Linked DNA regions of Homo sapiens: region 2 is linked to region 1. A link means that fine-mapping ties the variant in region 1 to the plasma level of a protein whose gene starts in the linked region. Region 1 holds a variant in brackets. A gene starts in the other region. All regions are shown on their reverse strands. Region 1 overlaps PLG (plasminogen). Region 2 holds the start of KRT5 (keratin 5).

Evidence for each region. PIP is the chance, under the fine-mapping model, that this variant and not a neighbour inherited with it causes the effect. The UK Biobank Pharma Proteomics Project read protein levels with antibody pairs (Olink). The fine-mapping took linkage between variants from a reference panel, not from the people measured, so its PIPs are less certain.
Region 2: it holds the start of KRT5, and the variant in region 1 is fine-mapped to the plasma level of the KRT5 protein (UK Biobank, PIP 0.98).

Annotation. Positions count from the first base shown.
Region 1 is chr6:160,706,112-160,710,502 of GRCh38, reverse strand. It overlaps PLG (plasminogen), which reads right to left. Exons shown (of 19, transcript NM_000301.5): 2 at 3,961-4,096; 3 at 2,697-2,803. Among named protein-coding and RNA genes, the nearest start is that of PLG, 6.1 kb to the right of the region's middle. The variant C/T (reference allele first, on the strand shown) is at 2,723.
Region 2 is chr12:52,519,379-52,523,722 of GRCh38, reverse strand. It overlaps KRT5 (keratin 5), which reads left to right and starts at 3,329. Exons shown (of 9, transcript NM_000424.4): 1 at 3,329-3,981. The coding sequence starts at 3,427. RefSeq lists enhancers at 457-1,422, 4,242-4,344.

The sequences.
Region 1 (4,391 bases):
AACTCACCAGTTAGACAACGGGCCCTCTCCTGTGTTTAAAACAGTCCGGTGCCCACCTGGGTCCACATGCAGCTGGCAGGTGTTTGCTAGTGTGCCCACCCATGTCTGTTCCCCCCACGTGAGTTATGTGCTTACAACGAGTCATTTCTTTGCATTTTCCAACTTTCTTACATTTATATTTAATTAAAGATGATCTAAACTGAGAAATGAATGTGAAAAGAAACAAAGCTCTTTTTTGTTTGGTTTTTAACTAAATTAAATGTTTTTAACAAGTTGAAACATGAATCATTTAAAAAATTGCTATCAAATCCACAGAGGGCAATCCACTCATATAGTTGACTATAAAGCTTGAGGAGGAATTCATAAAAATCTAAAGGTTTTACACATTCAGATTGATTAATAAATGTCGAGATATGGTCCACTTCAAAAATAAGGAAAGTAATTATTGTAGATGTTGCACTGGAGCATAGTTTATGCAGGAAATACACCAGAGACCTTCTACTGGTGACCCCATATTCGAAGAAGAAAAGCCTCTGCTCTACGTCAAAAGGTGTCAAGTACACTTGTGTTTTCAATGAAAATATAAAATGTTTAAGGTATATTTACACCATCATTTAAGGTTACCCACTTTAGCCATTTTTTAATTAATTGATCAATCACATGGGGAAAGTGCTCCTAACATACCTACAGCAAACTAATGCTTTTAACCCAATACTGCGTATTATGATTGCAAGTACATCTTCATTGGGACATAGTATTACAGTAGACATAAGACACTCATCAAAAGTGTAAACTCAAGGTACTTTGTGAAAGGGAGGTCTAGGGGTCAAGGAAGATTTGCAAAGGACATGATGATTGAGCTGACACCTAGGAGATAAGAAGGAGCTGGCACAGCAGGACAAAGGTGAAGAGGGTCCCAGGCAGGAGGGTGTGTGCTTGGGGTGGTGAAGGAACAGAAGTAAGGCCAGTGTAGAAAAGTTTAGCAAGCCAAGCAAACAGCAGCTGGGGGTTACTTAAATAATGCTGGGCCCTAGCACATTTGGGAAGTCTTTGGGTCTTATTTTAAGGGCACTAGGAAGGGCTTTAAACAGGGAAGTTACATTTCTTAGAGATCATGTGTACAGCTACAAGTAGCCCCAACCAGTGGTGATAGGGTCTTGGACTTGGTGAAGGCAGTGTGGCTGGTGGCAAGTGGCAGAAGTAAATGTGATCTAACACTGACTGTTCCTGGCAAAACCCTGGCAGGTAAGTTAGTAGCAGGTCAATATCCCACAGCAAAGAAACAAGGACCAAAAAATGACTGACTTTTGACTTTTCACTTCTTTTTTTTTTGTATGTACCCATCAGAGTTTATATAACCTTTTGCTCCCTTCTGTCACTTTGAAAACAAGCAAACTAAGCCTTCAAACTTCAGACTTCAAACTCAACCTACAGTCATTCCCATGTTCCTTCTGGTTAACAATTTACAAATGACATATTTAAATGTTAGCATTTTGTAGAGAGAATCAGGAGAATCAGGGTTTTTTTTTTTTAAAATCTGGTACAATTAGGTGATCCTATTTAGTTTACCGTTTGCTTGCTACTTGTAAGAACTAATAACTTCACCAGATAAAGTTTAGATTTAATCTGCACTTTAATCTCAAGAATTCGAGATAAATAGTGGTAAGGAAGGAAGTACAATGCGTACAGCTAATGAAACCCAGGAAGATGAGTCAATGCATAGAAATAATTCCAACCCAAATAAATACTATTTAAAATGCTACTTAGAGTTTTGCCGTAATACTAGACACAATATGGCAAATCATCCTCAAGAATACAAGAACTAAGGTGTTTCCAGTCCTCTTTAACACCTGGGATGCAGAATGTTTGGAGAGCTAAATTGTTACTATTAACAGTCTTAATACCTGGCTACCAACACAGTAGAGGAAACAGTTTTTAAAGTGTCATGCATCCCTTCAAATATTTATACTTGATGGGATATGCTTAATGGGAGCATACTTGATGGGATATACTTGATGGGAAATGCTTAATGAAACATTTGCACATCTAAAAAGGCATGCAATTTCTATTGAAATCCTGTCTGCCTCTTATTCTAAGCAGTGGGACTATTGACCCACATTTTAAAATAAACTATAGAAAAGGAACTGTAACTTTTACACATTTTTAAAAGACAACATTTCAGAAATCTGAGAAAAATATAGACCATGTCCCCCAAAATGTGAAAAATTTAAGAGTAAAAATAAGATTTGTGTCCCAATCTAAATGTTTCTGAGGATTAAAACACCTCAGTATTTCTGTTTTACAAGGCTTCATCCAGATGTTAGGGCCCAAGGACCATGGTCACCCTGCAGAATAAGAAGCCAAGACCAAAAGGAATGCTTAGACTTCCCATCTCCTTGTTAAATATAAAATAATATTTTAAAAATCTTATTTTCAGGGTCATAGAGGTAGAAGTGATTTTGTAAATCTAATCCTTTCATCTTTTGAACAAAAAAAATTAAATCTAAGAGGTGAAGTAATACACTCAAGCTGACATGGTTAGTTAGTAATCAAATCCTGTCCTAACTCAGAATTCAGTTTTATAACACGATAGTGCCTTCCTCCTCTGGTCTTATAAATTAAAGATAGAATAGAGAAAGAGGAAGAGTGGGAGGATGGGGAGGACAGTAGGAGGAGGAGGAAGAAAATGTACTCACCTTTCTTTTCAAATAAAACTACATCT[C/T]TCATCCTAATGATTATGGAGGACTTCCTGTTTTCAGCCATTATCACACATTGTTGCTCTTTACTGTGATATTGGAATGCCCTGCAGAACGAAGCAGGAAATCCAATAAGTATTTTTCTTTATTTAAAGAAAACAAATGTTTATTAATAAGTGAGACATGCTAAAGATCATTGAATATCTTGAGGGACCAGAGAGCTCAGAATTGCTGCCTCTTTCAGTTATTTGGGCATGGCATCGATGAAGTACTGAACAAAATACACCAACGTGGCAGCAAATCTTATCTGCCCTTACCTTCCCTCCCTCATAATTTTCCCTTTCTTCCTGTTTCAACTGCTTTACTTCTTCTTCACTCATCTTCTTAATTTTTGTTTTTGGGTTGGAAAGAAGCAACTCTGGTTGCTTTGAACCCATTCGCCAAGATAGTCCGTCTCCATGACCTCCCAACTCTGATCAGTTCCCCTGAACCTCTGCTCCACATTCCACCCCACCCTGGCCCCTGACCCCTCCCATCTCCATCCCGTGGTCCTGCTATGGGTGCTCAGTCTGGATTCCATAGCTACCTTCCCAAGCCCGTCACCTACACAAAGTCTCTGCTTTAGTCAACTTCATCTCTTAATGGTCCCCCTCAGAAGGTGCAGGGCCGCATCTTCCCCTGCCTTCCTGGTGCTTGTCAAGAGCTCTCTCAACTCCAAACCCAGCTCAGTTCCCACCTCCTCCCTGAGCCTTCTCTAGCTGCCTCAACCTTAGGCACTGTTCTTTCTTCTGGATCTGGGTAGAGCATGCATTGATTATGCCTGTACCTCACTTGGGCTGTCTTTTTTTTTTTTTTAACATTATATCCAGTTTCTTTGACTACACCTTAAATACTAAAGGGCAGGCACTGGATCTTGTAGCTATAAGTCATTGCTCAGATCTATCTAGGACACTTTCATTCACCTGATCCTCAACAAACATTTACTGATGATGATGTTGAAAACTGGAGCTCAGAACAATAACTGCTAATGTTTGTGTCCGGTGTAAAAACAAATAACTTCCTTTGAGGGTATTTTTCTAACAAAGACTCCAATAAACCTTAACAAGAAGCTGTTAGTATGGCTTCACATACTGTGAGCAAATATAGTTCCAAACTCTGGCTCCATAAATTTCTCTTTCCTCTTAAATCATTAATAAATTTGTGAGTAAATTACTTGCCATCTGAATTACAGATTCCTGCGTAGGTGCAACGACAATGGAAATACCTGCAGGTGAATTCTTCGTCCTCCTCACATTTTGCTGCACATTCTTCTATACTTCCTGCTCCCAGCTGCTTCTTAGTGACACTGAACAGTGAAGCCCCCTGGGTATTCACATAGTCATCCAGAGGCTCTCCTTGACCTAGAGGTGGGAGATCCAAGTGGAATAAATGGTCAGTAAATCAATGTCAATGTCTAATTGTCATGACTTCCTTTTAATCTATTTGGTTAGCATTAACCAAATAAAACTTTCTGTTTACTGGAAGTAGAATGGGTAGCTATGAATCAAAATGTTTAGTTAAGAACACACAGTCGGGCATTTGGACATAAATAAAGATGGCAACTAAAGACACTGGGGACTACCAGAGAAGGGAGAGAGGGAGCAAGGCAAGGGCTGAAAAACTACCTATTTAGTAGGTATTTAGCTCACTACCTGG
Region 2 (4,344 bases), not on the chromosome of region 1:
CTAAGGAATAAAGAATCCTAAATGCTAGATTAAATCCTAAATCCTAAACACAGAGCATACCCAGTGTGAAGGGGACAACAGACTCATCCTGTAGACACGGACTGAGAGACAAAATCAGATGGACAAGACTCTGAGACTCAGCATAGGGCTGGAGGATTCACAGAAATATATGTGAATATATATAATGTATATACATTCTGTTATACATAGGTTGGTGTAGATATAGGTTGGTGCAAAAGCAATTGAGGTTCTTGCCATTGTGGGCTTCACATAACAATCTGGGGAAGGAGCGGAGGAAGAGGATTTTCTGTCTGTCAATTCACTCCAAAAAATATCTGCAGAACACTTCCAGTGCCCAAGGCTGGGCTGAGGGTGTGGGCCATGCAGAGATGTTCCCTAACCTTGGAGACTGCCCTGCTGGGGGGGACTTAGAGGATATGTACAAATGCTGTTTTATGGAACATGTTCTATTTATCATGCTCTATTAAATGTATCTTCTACTAAAGCCCTACAGATTGGAGTGGAGGCTCTGAGGAGAAGGAATCCTGGGCTGGGATGGCAGGATTTGCCTAACCCTTGTTCCACGAATGGATACCACCCTCTCCCTGGTGTCTGTGAAGGGCTTCTCCATGTATGAAATGCTGACCAGGTCCTACATTCCCTGCACAGCTCTGCGAGAGAGGTCAGGGCAGCCAGCTTACTGTCCTTTCTCTGATGGGGAGAGCAGCAGGGCGGGCCCTGCACTGTCTTCTGCTGACAAGGAAAGCAGCACCCAGAGGAGAAGCTGAGCAACATGTCCCACCAAGCCTGGGAACTGCCTCTGTGGGGTGCCCAGCAGGAAAGCTCCCTGGTGAGCCTAACACAATCCCTCCCTTCCTGCCACAGTGAAATTCCAGGCTGGGGTGGGACTCTCCCGAGCTGCAGTGGTGCTGGTGCCTGGCTCCCCACCAGGAGCGGCTCCATTATTTATACCTGTCCAGGTCTGGCATTGAGGGAGGGGCTGCCCTGCCTGCTCATGGGAGGATTCCCACGAAGCTCGGATAGAAGAGTGCTGCTGCTTCTCCCATGGAGCACCCACATGCTCCCTGCTCCCATGGAGCACCACACACTCACCGTTGGTCCCTGGCACATGGATCTGAGCTTGGCACACTCTAGCAATCCTCAGACTAGCCAGAACGCATTCCTGCTCTGCCAAGTCCTCTTTCTTCACAACACAGCTGGGAGGAGAATGAATGGGGAGAAGAGAATGTCCCAGTGTCTCAGGAGGGGTGGGGCTTCCCTGAGGGCAGTGAGGTCTGTACCCGGGACCTGTGAGTGTATGTGGTGGTGGGGATATACCCCGATATCGATCTTTGAGTGGAGCAGGAGCATCCCACTACGAGTCCTCAGACACTTGCTTCAGGCTTGGATCTGTTCTGTTCTATCAGGAGCCGAGGGTCCCCTGGTATGTCTCAGGCCTCCAGGACACTCACATCTGTTCTCCAGAAAGCAACCAAATGTGAAAATGGTGAGCTCAGCACAATTCATCTCTGAGGGTCTCAGAAATGCTCCAGCCAGGGAGGCCACCCAAACCATTTTGCTCAAGACCTGTAAGACCGGCTCCGGCCATTGGTCTGTCTGCCGAGATTGACCTGTCAGCTGCTTGCTCATCGCAGCCCTCTGGTGAGAAGTCACTGTTTCAGCTGATCCTCAGCACCAGGGAGTCATTTTCCCACTGCCTTGGCTTCCTTGTGGCCAACCGCAGGCCCTGGTGAGAGATTCCTGAGCCTGGGTCTGGTCCTGTTCTTCTACTCTTGAGAATATAGCCCCTCCTCCCTGAGGCTTTGAAGCCATCCCCATTGCATTCCTACCTCCAGCCTCGGGCCACAGGGCGCCCCCGAAACTCTGAACAGCCCAAGCACTGTCCTGCCTGAGAGCCCTGCTTCTATTTGGGGGACGGCAGAGAGGTGGCCCCACTCAGATCTGCTGCCAAAAAGAGTGGGTGTGGTTTAGAACAGACGTGTGTTAAAACCTCATCAGAAACCCCCTTTCCTCCACCTGGTGCCACAACCCCCCAGACAAGTTTTGCAGAGGGGATCTCAAAGGGCCCTCCCTAAAGCAGCTGGCAGATTGTCATGCCAGCTGCCTGGGCCCACAGGCCTGCTCTGGCTAGCCTTTCTGGCAGGACAATCCATAGACTTAGAATCCCGTTTTCCATTGCCTTGGCCCTGAAGGAGGCTGTGGGCTACAGCATAGAGAAAGCAGAGCAAGTCCCGCTGCTTGGAACAGGGTGGTTCGCCGTTATAACAGGCCGTCAGACTCTCAACATGTTCCTGATGAGATTAGAAGCTCCTGCAGGTATGTGTTTGTGGCGGCCTTCAGCCTGTATCAACACATACGATGACTCATTTCTTCCCTAGTGGAATAGAGCTTGCTGGAACACACCTGGGGGGCTGGGGAACCGGCAGAGTAGCTACCCCCAAAGAGAGACGCTATAGCCCATGAGTCTCAGGGTTTTTTTTTAAGGGATTGCATGGGATCCCCGGGTTTCCTAAACCCCCCACAGAGTCCTGCCCAGGCCAAAGAGCAAGGAAAAGGTCAAAGGGCAGAAAAAATGCTGAGTTAGGAGGAGCTATGGAAGGATAAACCTGGCCTTAAAGAGGTCAAAGTGGTTTATAGGGGGCGCTGAGGGCTTCCCACATTCTCTGGCCTAAACCTTGCAGGCAGATCTGCCCAGTGGGCTCTGGGATAGCTGTGCCTTCCCTAAGAAAAAAATTGTGCAGAAAAGGATGAAACTCTATTTTCCCTCTAGCACATAACCAAGAATATAAGGCTACAGATTGCCTTTCCCAGAGGGGAAAACCCTGCAGCAACCTGCTGCCTGGAAAAGTGTAAGAGCAGATCACTGGGGAATCGTTTGCCCCCCGCTGATGGACAGCTTCCCCAAGCTGGAAGGGCAGGTGCTCAGCATGTACCGTACTGGGATGGTTGTCAATACTCCTGGTCCTGTAAGAGTCCCCAGGACACTGGCCATGCCAATGCCCCCTCAGTTCCTGGCATCCTTTTTGGGCTGCTCACAGCCCCCAGCCTCTATGGTGAAGACATACTTGCTAGCAGCGTCACCAACTTGCTGCCAAGAGATCAGTGCTGCAAGGCAAGGTTATTTCTAACTGAGCAGAGCCTGCCAGGAAGAAAGCGTTTGCACCCCACACCACTGTGCAGGTGTGACCGGTGAGCTCACAGCTGCCCCCCAGGCATGCCCAGCCCACTTAATCATTCACAGCTCGACAGCTCTCTCGCCCAGCCCAGTTCTGGAAGGGATAAAAAGGGGGCATCACCGTTCCTGGGTAACAGAGCCACCTTCTGCGTCCTGCTGAGCTCTGTTCTCTCCAGCACCTCCCAACCCACTAGTGCCTGGTTCTCTTGCTCCACCAGGAACAAGCCACCATGTCTCGCCAGTCAAGTGTGTCCTTCCGGAGCGGGGGCAGTCGTAGCTTCAGCACCGCCTCTGCCATCACCCCGTCTGTCTCCCGCACCAGCTTCACCTCCGTGTCCCGGTCCGGGGGTGGCGGTGGTGGTGGCTTCGGCAGGGTCAGCCTTGCGGGTGCTTGTGGAGTGGGTGGCTATGGCAGCCGGAGCCTCTACAACCTGGGGGGCTCCAAGAGGATATCCATCAGCACTAGTGGTGGCAGCTTCAGGAACCGGTTTGGTGCTGGTGCTGGAGGCGGCTATGGCTTTGGAGGTGGTGCCGGTAGTGGATTTGGTTTCGGCGGTGGAGCTGGTGGTGGCTTTGGGCTCGGTGGCGGAGCTGGCTTTGGAGGTGGCTTCGGTGGCCCTGGCTTTCCTGTCTGCCCTCCTGGAGGTATCCAAGAGGTCACTGTCAACCAGAGTCTCCTGACTCCCCTCAACCTGCAAATCGACCCCAGCATCCAGAGGGTGAGGACCGAGGAGCGCGAGCAGATCAAGACCCTCAACAATAAGTTTGCCTCCTTCATCGACAAGGTGAGCTACGATCTTTTGTAAAAAATCACTGTGGGTCTGAAATAAATGCCAAAGAGAGAGAAAGAAGGAAGATGTTTTGGCTTTGTGCAAATACTTTTATAGTTGTACAGTTCTGTGTTTCCGTTTGTTTCTGTGCCCTGGATTTGTGGACACGTTCTGAATTAGACTGGCAGCTGGGAAGGGAGAATTATTTCTTCCCATTCAGAGGTTAGCTCACAAGGGCCTCTTAACAACTGTTGGACAGAGAGATGAATTTCATGCCATATATAAAGGGGCTGACTGTACAGGAAGGTAGACAAGTGCATGGGCAGCAGCCTGAGTGCCTTTGCAGCCACCCCTGAGCCGGGACACACTCCAAGCAGC